2 separate regions of the Homo sapiens genome follow, and region 2 is linked to region 1. Evidence: fine-mapped expression QTL. A gene starts in region 1. The other region holds a variant in brackets. All regions are shown on one strand. Distances are between the middles of the regions.

What was found. PIP is the estimated chance that this variant, and not a neighbour inherited with it, causes the effect.
Region 2: its variant is fine-mapped to the expression of MYO1C in whole blood (TOPMed, PIP 0.93).

What each region holds. Positions count from the first base shown.
Region 1 is chr17:1,490,369-1,494,744 of GRCh38, reverse strand. MYO1C (myosin IC) reads left to right here and starts at 2,059. Exons shown (of 32, transcript NM_001080779.2): 1 at 2,059-2,332. The coding sequence starts at 2,258. It overlaps LOC105371483 (a long non-coding RNA gene), which reads right to left and starts at 1,958. Exons shown (of 2, transcript XR_934145.4): 1 at 1,120-1,958; 2 at 51-795. It overlaps INPP5K (inositol polyphosphate-5-phosphatase K), which reads left to right. Exons shown (of 12, transcript NM_016532.4): 12 at 1-168. RefSeq lists silencers at 2,804-3,203, 3,284-3,723 and an enhancer at 3,008-3,727.
Region 2 is chr17:1,461,396-1,465,771 of GRCh38, reverse strand. MYO1C (myosin IC) reads left to right here. Exons shown (of 32, transcript NM_001080779.2): 32 at 20-1,586. The coding sequence ends at 46. Among named protein-coding and RNA genes, the nearest start is that of CRK, 7.4 kb to the right of the region's middle. RefSeq lists enhancers at 1,748-2,567, 2,697-2,776. The variant C/T (reference allele first, on the strand shown) is at 2,397.

The sequences.
Region 1 (4,376 bases):
TCCTGCCATCCTGTGTCCTGGGACTGAGGGTTACTCCAGTTGCTCTGTGTTGCATACTCTCCCCCGCAAGCCTGTGTATGAAGAATTGTCCCCTGGCTTCCAGCAGGCCATGGCTGGCTGTTTTGTGACTGTTACATTGTGCAGGGGTAATTATTAGCGTGGCTTTTACACTTGCGTGTGACTGATGATTGGGGGGTGGGGGTACGGTGATGGGCCTGGGACTAGCTGTAGATTCCAGGAACAGGGACCCTGTAGATCCCAACTAGACTTCTGTGTCTGAGATTTGCAGAAGTGGCCAGGACTGGGGCTAGGATGAGGTTCTAGAATGGTGAGCCTCTGGGGCCCTAACCAGGTGGAGCATGCCATCTATGCCGGTGGCCGCTTAATGTACTCTGTTAAGTCAAATGAGCTCTTGTTCATCCCTCCTGACCCGCTGCTCTGCATACCCTGGTGTTGAGCCTTCTGCCTGCGTTAACCAGTCCAGAATGCCACCATCTTCTCTTTCTGCCCCACTTCTCCTCAGCCCCTTCTTGCTGAGTTTTCCCCCATGGTAACCTATCCCTGCCCCCAACACATATACCTAGGGACCTCCAAAGCCCTCACTTGCCCACCTGTTCCTTCTCACATGCACAGCCATCACGAGGGTTACTGCATGGCACCCTTCATTGGGCAGATGGGAAAGCCAAGGCTCAGAGAAGTGGTACAGTCTCTTCAAAGTTCCAGGCACCTGTGGTTTCCCACAGGACCAGAAACAGGAATGGGGTCTGAACCCACCCGCAGAGCGGTCTCAGTAGTCTGTAAAATACAGATGATGTCCCTATTCTCAAGATTACTGTGGGAGAACAATTGCAGAAAGTGTATCGCACTAGACCCGCCTCCCCGTTCTGATTAATGCGGCCCCGGGGCTTGACCCCAGGGGTCCCCCCACATGCTCACCTCCCCCGTGGTGAACTGAGGTCGCCACACACCCAGCCTCCTGTGTGGGAGGGGTGAGCCCAGCAGTGATTGAGAGGCGGAAAGGGGAATGGGGGGTGCTCTCCGTCCTCTGGGCCCCAGTCAGGATATGGCCGTTCTGGGTCCACCCCGACCCACTGGGTGGAAACAGGAAATAAGTGAGACCTGGTGTGCACTGGGTCTACGCCTGGCTCCACGGCTGATAAGGGCCATTGTGTGGCCGCCGGGGATGAGCCTGCTCTGGATAGATGTGCTTCCCGGAGGAAGGAAGGAAGGCTTGCTAGCTTTTCCGGGGCGGGGGAAGCTGTGGGGAGAGAGAAGGGTGCCGGGGGGAAGGCCCCTGCCTATGGGGCTGTCGGTGCCAGCACACACCCACGGGACTCAGCCCTTCCTATGCCAGCCTCTCCCTCTGGAAAGGTCTGTTTCCCCTATCCACTTCCCTGTTCTTACTTCCTATAAGGAATGGCTGGAGACTGGAGGGCTCAGTCTCAGGCCAGGAAAGTGTCAGCTGTGATTTAGCAACAATAAAAATAGAAAAGCAGGAACATCAGGGGTGGGGGTCACCTGGGGGTACTGTTGAAACGCAAGGGATGAACAGGGCTAGAGGTTGCCCACACCCAGGGAACCCAGGAACTAACCTCACAAGCTCTGAGGCTCAGAGGAGGGTAAGCCAAGAGCTTCCTCACAGCGGGACAGCCCCCTGTCCGGGCCCTGCATGACCAGGCCCCAGCAGCCCTGGTCTCTCAAACTCATGGTGGGGGCTCACCTGCTGTGGGGGGCAGCCCCGTTGAGGGGATGTGCAGGAAAGCCAGTGCCTACTAACGGGTCCTCTTGGCCTAGGGGAGGGCATGCCGTCTGGTTTGGGGAGTGGGCCCCGTGCTCTCTAGGTGGTACCAGAGAGTGGGCAGGAGGAGGGGCCCAGCCATAGAGCTGCCGTGGGGATGGGGGGAAGGGGAAAGGCGTCCTAGCCTTTGACCTGGAGCCCAGGGTCCCCCATGGGTGGCTGCATCGGCTCCTCTGGTTACCTGGGACAACAGGCATTTCCTCCATCCCCAGCCCCTCCTCTTCCTGCTCCAACCATCCGGGCCAAGAGGCCTCCCAGTCAGACCTGGACGGCTCCAGCCGTGTCCTGAGGAGCTGGACCAGCCACATCCCCTGGGGCTGCAGTTGAAGCAGAACCAAGTGGCCATCCCGGCGTTAGACCGTAGGTTCCTGGTCCCGGAGTGGTCGGAGCCCGCCAGTGGGCAGGCAGCTCTTGCTCACAGGCCGCGGTGCCCAGGCCGCTGGCTCTCCGCAGGGCGGAATGGCGCTGCAAGTGGAGCTGGTACCCACCGGGGAGATCATCCGCGTGGTTCATCCCCACAGGCCCTGCAAGCTTGTAAGCTGGGATGCTCTGGGCTGGGAGGAGGGTGGGAGCGTCTCCCCAAGGCCGGGCAGCCCCTCTCAGGCGAGCCCTCGGGCAAGAGCTGAGCAGCGGGGAGGGGTTCCGATCCTTGGCGGGGCCAGAACAGACTGAACAAGACGGGGTGAGTGGAAGAGTAAGGATGCAAGGGCCACTAGCAGCAGGATTTTTGGAAGTGGAGGTCTGGGCTTGACTCTTCCCCGGCTTCCCGAACCTCAGTGGGCAGAACCGTGAATACTGGGCACAAAAGGCAAGTGCCGGCTGCTGTGAGGTCGAAGGACCAGGGCATGGAAGCTCCAGGCTCAGTCAACGCCCCGCTCCTCTCCAGTCCGCAGGGCTGGGACCGCCCAAGACTCAGAACAGAAGGACGGTGTGGGAGGTGGGTGAAGGGTCACGGGTGGGTAGAAACGGGGGAGCGCGGCCCTGGCCCGGCCCGCAGGAAGGGGCTGGAGATGCAAAGGGCCCGGAGGAGGGAGAAAGTCGGGCGCCCCCACGCCCCCAGCAGCGCGGCGGGGAGCCGGGTCTTCGGCCGGAGGGGCGCGCGCGTGTTCGCTGTGGCCCCGGGAACGGGCCGAGGCGGGGGCCGCACGCACCGAGGCTTCGCGGACGCGGCCGGGGCTGAGGCGGGGCGGGGCGGGGCCGGAGGGTGCGCGGCCCTGCCCGGGATGACGACAGGCTGCGGCCCGGCCCCCGGCGGGCCCTGGGCGGGGAGAGTGCGCCCGGGCCGCGGATCCCCAAGCCCGCCACGCCGCCCAGCCCGGCCCCGCCCGCGCCGGAAGAGCCACGCCGGTGGGTACTCGGGGCGCGGGGACGGCGGCCGCGGGGGGCGGGTGTGGGGAGCGGGCGGCCGGGCCGGGAGCCGCCGTGCACGAGGCAGGGGTCACGGCCGGGGATCGCTGGGGCCGAAGAACGGCCGCGTGGACCCGTGCGGGGGGGGGGGGTCCCACGACCCGGAGGCGCCGGCGCAGCCTGGTGGAGACTTAGATTTACCTGCGGGGAGCGGGAGGCGGGGAAGAGCGGCCTGGGCTGCAGGACCCAGGACCCTGCGCGCCCTTCGGGCCCCGCCCGCAGCCCTGCTCCGCCTCTGGGTTCCGGAGAAGCCGCCTAAACCCGCCCCTTCCCGTTCTCCGCCCCTGGGGCCCAGCGCGCCCCGAGTGTGACGGGCGGGGGGCTCCGGGGTGGCCGGAGAAGGAGGATGGCCACGCGGCCCTCAGTCCTCACGCTCCGGCCTCCCGCGCACACGCCTGGCTCTGAGATTCATTCATTCATCCAGGGGTCCGGGAAGGGGTGACTGAGCCCCACCGTGTGCCTCGCTGCGTGTAGGGAGTGGGAGCCGTCTCCTGGGAGGGACTGACAAGGAAACAGCTGATTCCTGCGGGGTGCGATAAGGAGGCGCTGCGTGTTTGGGAGAATCAGGAAGGGGTTCTGGAGGAGGTGACACCTGAGCCGAGTCTCAGTGAGGTGGGCAGGGAGAGTGCCCCGGGCTGGGGAAGCCGCAGGTGCAGGCACTGAAGCTTGGACTGGCTGGCGACGGTGCGAAGGCCCCCTCCTGGGGGGAGGGGTGGGGGGAGAGGGGACTGGAGCGGGCCATCTGGCACATCGGAATGCAGGAGCAGTGGGGTAAACTGGGGACAGCAGGGGGGTCTCGGGAGTTCATAGGCAGGGTCCTGGTAAGCAGCAGTGAGTGTGAATCATGGGCCTGGCATATGGAGGGTGTCCTAAACCTTCACTCTATGAACATGAGGTGTTGATTTGATTTGTGTTGCCCCAGAGGAAATGGATTGGTAGGAGGAAGGCAAGGAGGCCAGTTAGGCTGCTGTCTTGGCCCAGGTAAGGAGCAGTGATGGAGGTGAGGTTTTTGTTTGTTTTTGTTGTTGTTTTGTTTTGTTTTGAGATGGAGTCTCGCTCTGTTGCCCAGGATGGAATGCAGTGGTGCGACCTCTGCTCACTGCAACCTCCACCTGCCGGGTTCAAGCTATTCTCCTGCCTCAGCCTCCTGAGTAGCTGGGATTACAGGTGT
Region 2 (4,376 bases), 29 kb after region 1:
TCTCTCTCCGCCCCCACAGGTCGCCCCACGGCTGAATTCTCGGTGATAAAGGCGCCCACTGGACCCTCCCAACGCCCAATGCTTTGCTTTTCTCCTCCTCCCCTTCCCAGTTACCAAAGACTCGAACTTCCAGACAGGGACCCAGGGACACCCCGAAGCCCACCTGCAATCTCCCACCTCCTGCCCATCCCTCTCTTGAGGGAGCAGCAGGGGCCAGGAGCTACCCCAGGAGTGGGCCAGGCCGGGCCACAGCAATAGGAAAGCCAGGGCCAGAGCGAGCCATGCCAGCCCTACTGCCGATGCCAAATATTTGAGAGAAGGGAACTTTTGCTGAGGTTTTCTCTGAGGTTTTTTTGATGCTTTATAGGAAACTATTTTTTAAAAAAAGCCATTTCCCACCCAAGGACACAGTGGATGTGTTTTCCCTGACTCCAGCAGGGCAAGGAATGTAGCCGAGAGGTTGTGTGGGCTGGGCTCTGGTGCCCTCTTCCCTGGCCAGGACACCTCTCCTCCTGATTCCCTTGGCACCTTGTCTTTCTGTCTGTTTACCTGTCTCCCTGCCTGCCCATCTGCATCTTTTGCAGCCCACTCTGACTTCCATCTGGGGGCTGAGACCACCCTTGCCTGCCCCCTTCTTTCTGCCTTAAGAATGTCCTTTTAGGCTGGGCATGGTGGCTCACGCCTGTAACCCCAGCACTTTGGGAGGCGGAGACGGGCAGATAACCTGAGGTCAGGATTTCGAGACCAACCTGACCTACATGGAGAAACTCCGCCTCTAGTAAAAATACAAAATTAGCCGGGCATGGTGGTGCACGCCTCTAATCCCAGCTACTCGGGAGGCTGAGGCAGGAGAATCACTTGAACCCGGGAAGTGGAGGTTGCAGTGAGCCAAGAGTACACCACTGCACTCCAGCCTGGGCAACAGAGCGAGACTCCGTCTTAAAAAAAAAAAAAAAGAACGCCCTTTTACTGTCCTCATCATCCCAGTTTGAGGCAGTGCTGGAGTGGGGAAGGCCGTCTTAGACCATAGAGGTTGGAAGACGCTGAGAGATCATCCAGCCCAGCCCCTTGATGTTACAGAGCAGAAGACAGATGCCCAAACAGGAGAAGGCACTTGCCCACGGTCATACGGCAGGTTGCCACAAAACCAAGATGGCAGCCCTTCCTCAGCGTGCCTCACTGCCACTCCCAGAGCCAGGGAGCCCCATAAAACCCACATCATGTCTTAAGAGTATATCTGGCTCCTTGACCAGCAATCGGCCCTGGGAGCCACCAGGTGGGAAAAGCGCCTCTGCCAGAGTCCAGGCCTTGGGATGACAGACAGCTTGCCCGCACACTCGGGCCCCACTCAAGGATGTAGGGCCTTTTCTGGCCCCTGACCCCTCCCTGGCATGGGAGCGTGGGGACGGGGCTGGCCTTGGGAGGAGCGGCAGGGGCATCACCTCCTTCTGCTGCTTCTCCCTGCTCCTACCCTCAAGGGCCTGGGGGCTGCCCAGCTGCCTCTATGCCCTTCTGGGGGTCTCAGCCCACTGCTGACACTTCTGCAATCCAGAGAAACACTAAATAAAGCAATACGTGTTTGCCAATGTGGTCTCCTTATGAATATTAGGAAACGAAGAGGGCCCCGGAAGGCAACCAAGGGCCTCGTGTTGCAGGTTTTTCTCGAGACAGTCTCGTTCTTGTCACCCAGGCTGGAGTGTAGTGGTGTGATCTTGGCTCACTGCGACCTCCACCTCCCAGGTTCAAGTGATTCTCCTGCCTCAACCTCCTGAGTAGCTGGGACTACATCATGCGCCACCACGCCTGGCTAATTTTTGTATTTTTAGTAGAGATTGGGTTTCACCGTGTTGGCCAGGCTGGTCTCGAACTCCTGACCTTGGGTGATGCCTCCCACCTCGGCCTCCCAAAGTGCTGGGGTGACAGGCATGAGCCACCGTGCCCGGACACCTCTCGTTCAAATTCTGTTGCAAGTGACAAACCCAGTCCAAACTGGCTTGGGCCAAAAAAAGGATATTTATAAGCATTAGCACCTTAGTCCCAGAGTAAGGCTACTTCCAGGTGCTCACACACTGTCAGGAATGTGTCTGGAACCATCGCCTGGCTGAACCTTCCTCTACAGTGGCTTCTTTCCCAAGCAGATTCTCACCTGGAGGTGGGGTGGCAGCAACAGCCACCCACAGCTCCAGGCTTTCATTCTGTCAGTTCAGCATTGGAGGCAGAAAGAGGAAGTGCCTCTTTCCCAAAATGTGGAAGTCTCAGAGCGGATTCTCAGTGCAGCACCTTGAATGAGGCATCCACCCTGACCCAATCACTGTAGCCAGGGAGAGGAATAGATTCTGATTGGTCAGGCCTGGATCGAGTGCCTGCCCCTGGAGACAGAGCTACCAGGGGCACAC[C/T]GGAACCCACACCGGAAACCACAGAACCAAGAGTGGGAGGAGATGACTCGCCAAAATGAAATCAGTGTCGCCTCCACAAGAAAGAGAATGAGTGGGCCGGGCGCGGTGGCTCACGCCTGTAGTCCCAGCACTTTGGGAGGCTGAGGCAGGTGGATCACCTGAGGTCAGGAGTTCAAGACCAGCCTGGCCAACACGGTGAAACCCCATCTCTACTAAAAATACAAAAATTAGCCAGGCAGGGTGGCGTGTGCCTGTAATCCCAGCTACTCGGAAGGCTGAGGCAGGAGAATCCCTTGAACCCCGGAGGCGAAGGTTACAGTGAGCCGAGATTATGCCACTGCCCTCCAGCCTGGGCGACAGAGCAAAAAAAAAAAAGAAAGTGCTTCAAGCTGCAACCACGGAGCTCGTCGTCAGCAGATGGCTGTGAGTTTTTCCAAGAGGGCGGCGCGCTGTGGGTGGAGGGAACGGTGCATGTGGAGCTTAGAGGCAAGAACAGGTTTGGCCCGGGGTCAGGCCAGCTGCCTGAGGAGCTTAGATTTGAAACCTGGGGCAGAGATTCTCAAACAAGGAGATACCACGCAACGTGGTGTTTTGGGCTTGACACGATCCTGTACGCACACCTACATTTTGACACCTCTCTCCATGATTAATTTTCCCGAGGAAAAATGAAACCACAATTATTCGTCCACTTTATCAGCAGTAACGATGCCTCCAAGAAGCTGATAGATAAGATAGGTATTAAGTGCAATTACATGCTTTATAACTGTGTCGACATTCCTTTCTCTAGCAAACCAGAATGCACGCGAGAATGACATCACAGACATTACCCAGACGTCCGCCTTTTTTTGTTTGTTTGTTTGTTTTTTTGTGACAGAGTCTGTCGCCCAGGCTGGAGTGCAATGGCACGATCTCAAAGTGGTCACTCCAAAGTGGTGGGATGACAGGCGTGAGCCACCGTGCCCAGCCTACTCTGACCTTTTGAGAGGTAACCAGGACTGGTTTGTGCCCTCAGCTCACATCCTGAGGGAAGTCCAGTGACCTCCAGGAAATATCTGCCAATTATGGGAAAAGCTAATGCTGGCTCTAGACAAGAGCTTCCGCCAGTTCTCCATTCATCCTTCCTTCATTCAACCCGGCGCTTTGGGAGGCCGAGGTGGGTGGATCATTTGAGGTCAGGAGTTTGAGACCAACCTGGCCTCCTGAGGCAGGAGAATTGCTTGAACCCGGGAGGTGGAGGTGGCAGTGAGCTGAGATGGAACCACTGTACTCCAGCCTGGGCAACAGGTTTTTGTTTGTTTGTTTGTGTGTTTTGAGACGAGTCTCACTGCATCGCCCAGGCTGGAGTGCAGTGGCGCGATCTCGGCTCACTGCAACCTCTGCCTCCTAGGTTCAAGCAATTCTGCCTCAGCCTCCTGAGTAGCTGTGACTACAGGTGCGTGCCACCACGCCCAGCTAATTTTTGTATTTTTAGTAGAGACGGAGTTTCACCATATTGGACAGGCTGGTCTCGAACTCCTGACCTCATGATCCGCCTGCCTTGGCCTCCCAAAGTGCTGGGATTCCAGGCATGAGCCACCGCGCCCGGCCCATTCAACCAGTATGAATTGAAGGAATGCTTGCAATGTGCCAGGATCTCAGTGAGGCTCTTGGGATATAGCAGGAACAACAAAAAGACCCAAATCCCTGCTCTCATGGAGCTTACACTCTAGCAAAGAATAGACAATACGTAAGGAAAATACCTAACATATTAGAAAGAGATAAGTGCTAGGAAAATAAGCAAAGCAGACAAGGGGAGAGGGAGTGTTGGTGTGTAGTTTGCAGTCAGGCAAGGCCTCACAGAGGAGATGACATCAGAGCGGGGACCTGAACGAGGAGAGGAAGTGACGGCTAGGATCTGGAGCAAGAGTGGTCAAGGCAGAGGGAACAGCAAGGCAAAGCCCTCGAGGAACGTGGAGTCTCCTGAGAGGAAAGGGAAGAAGG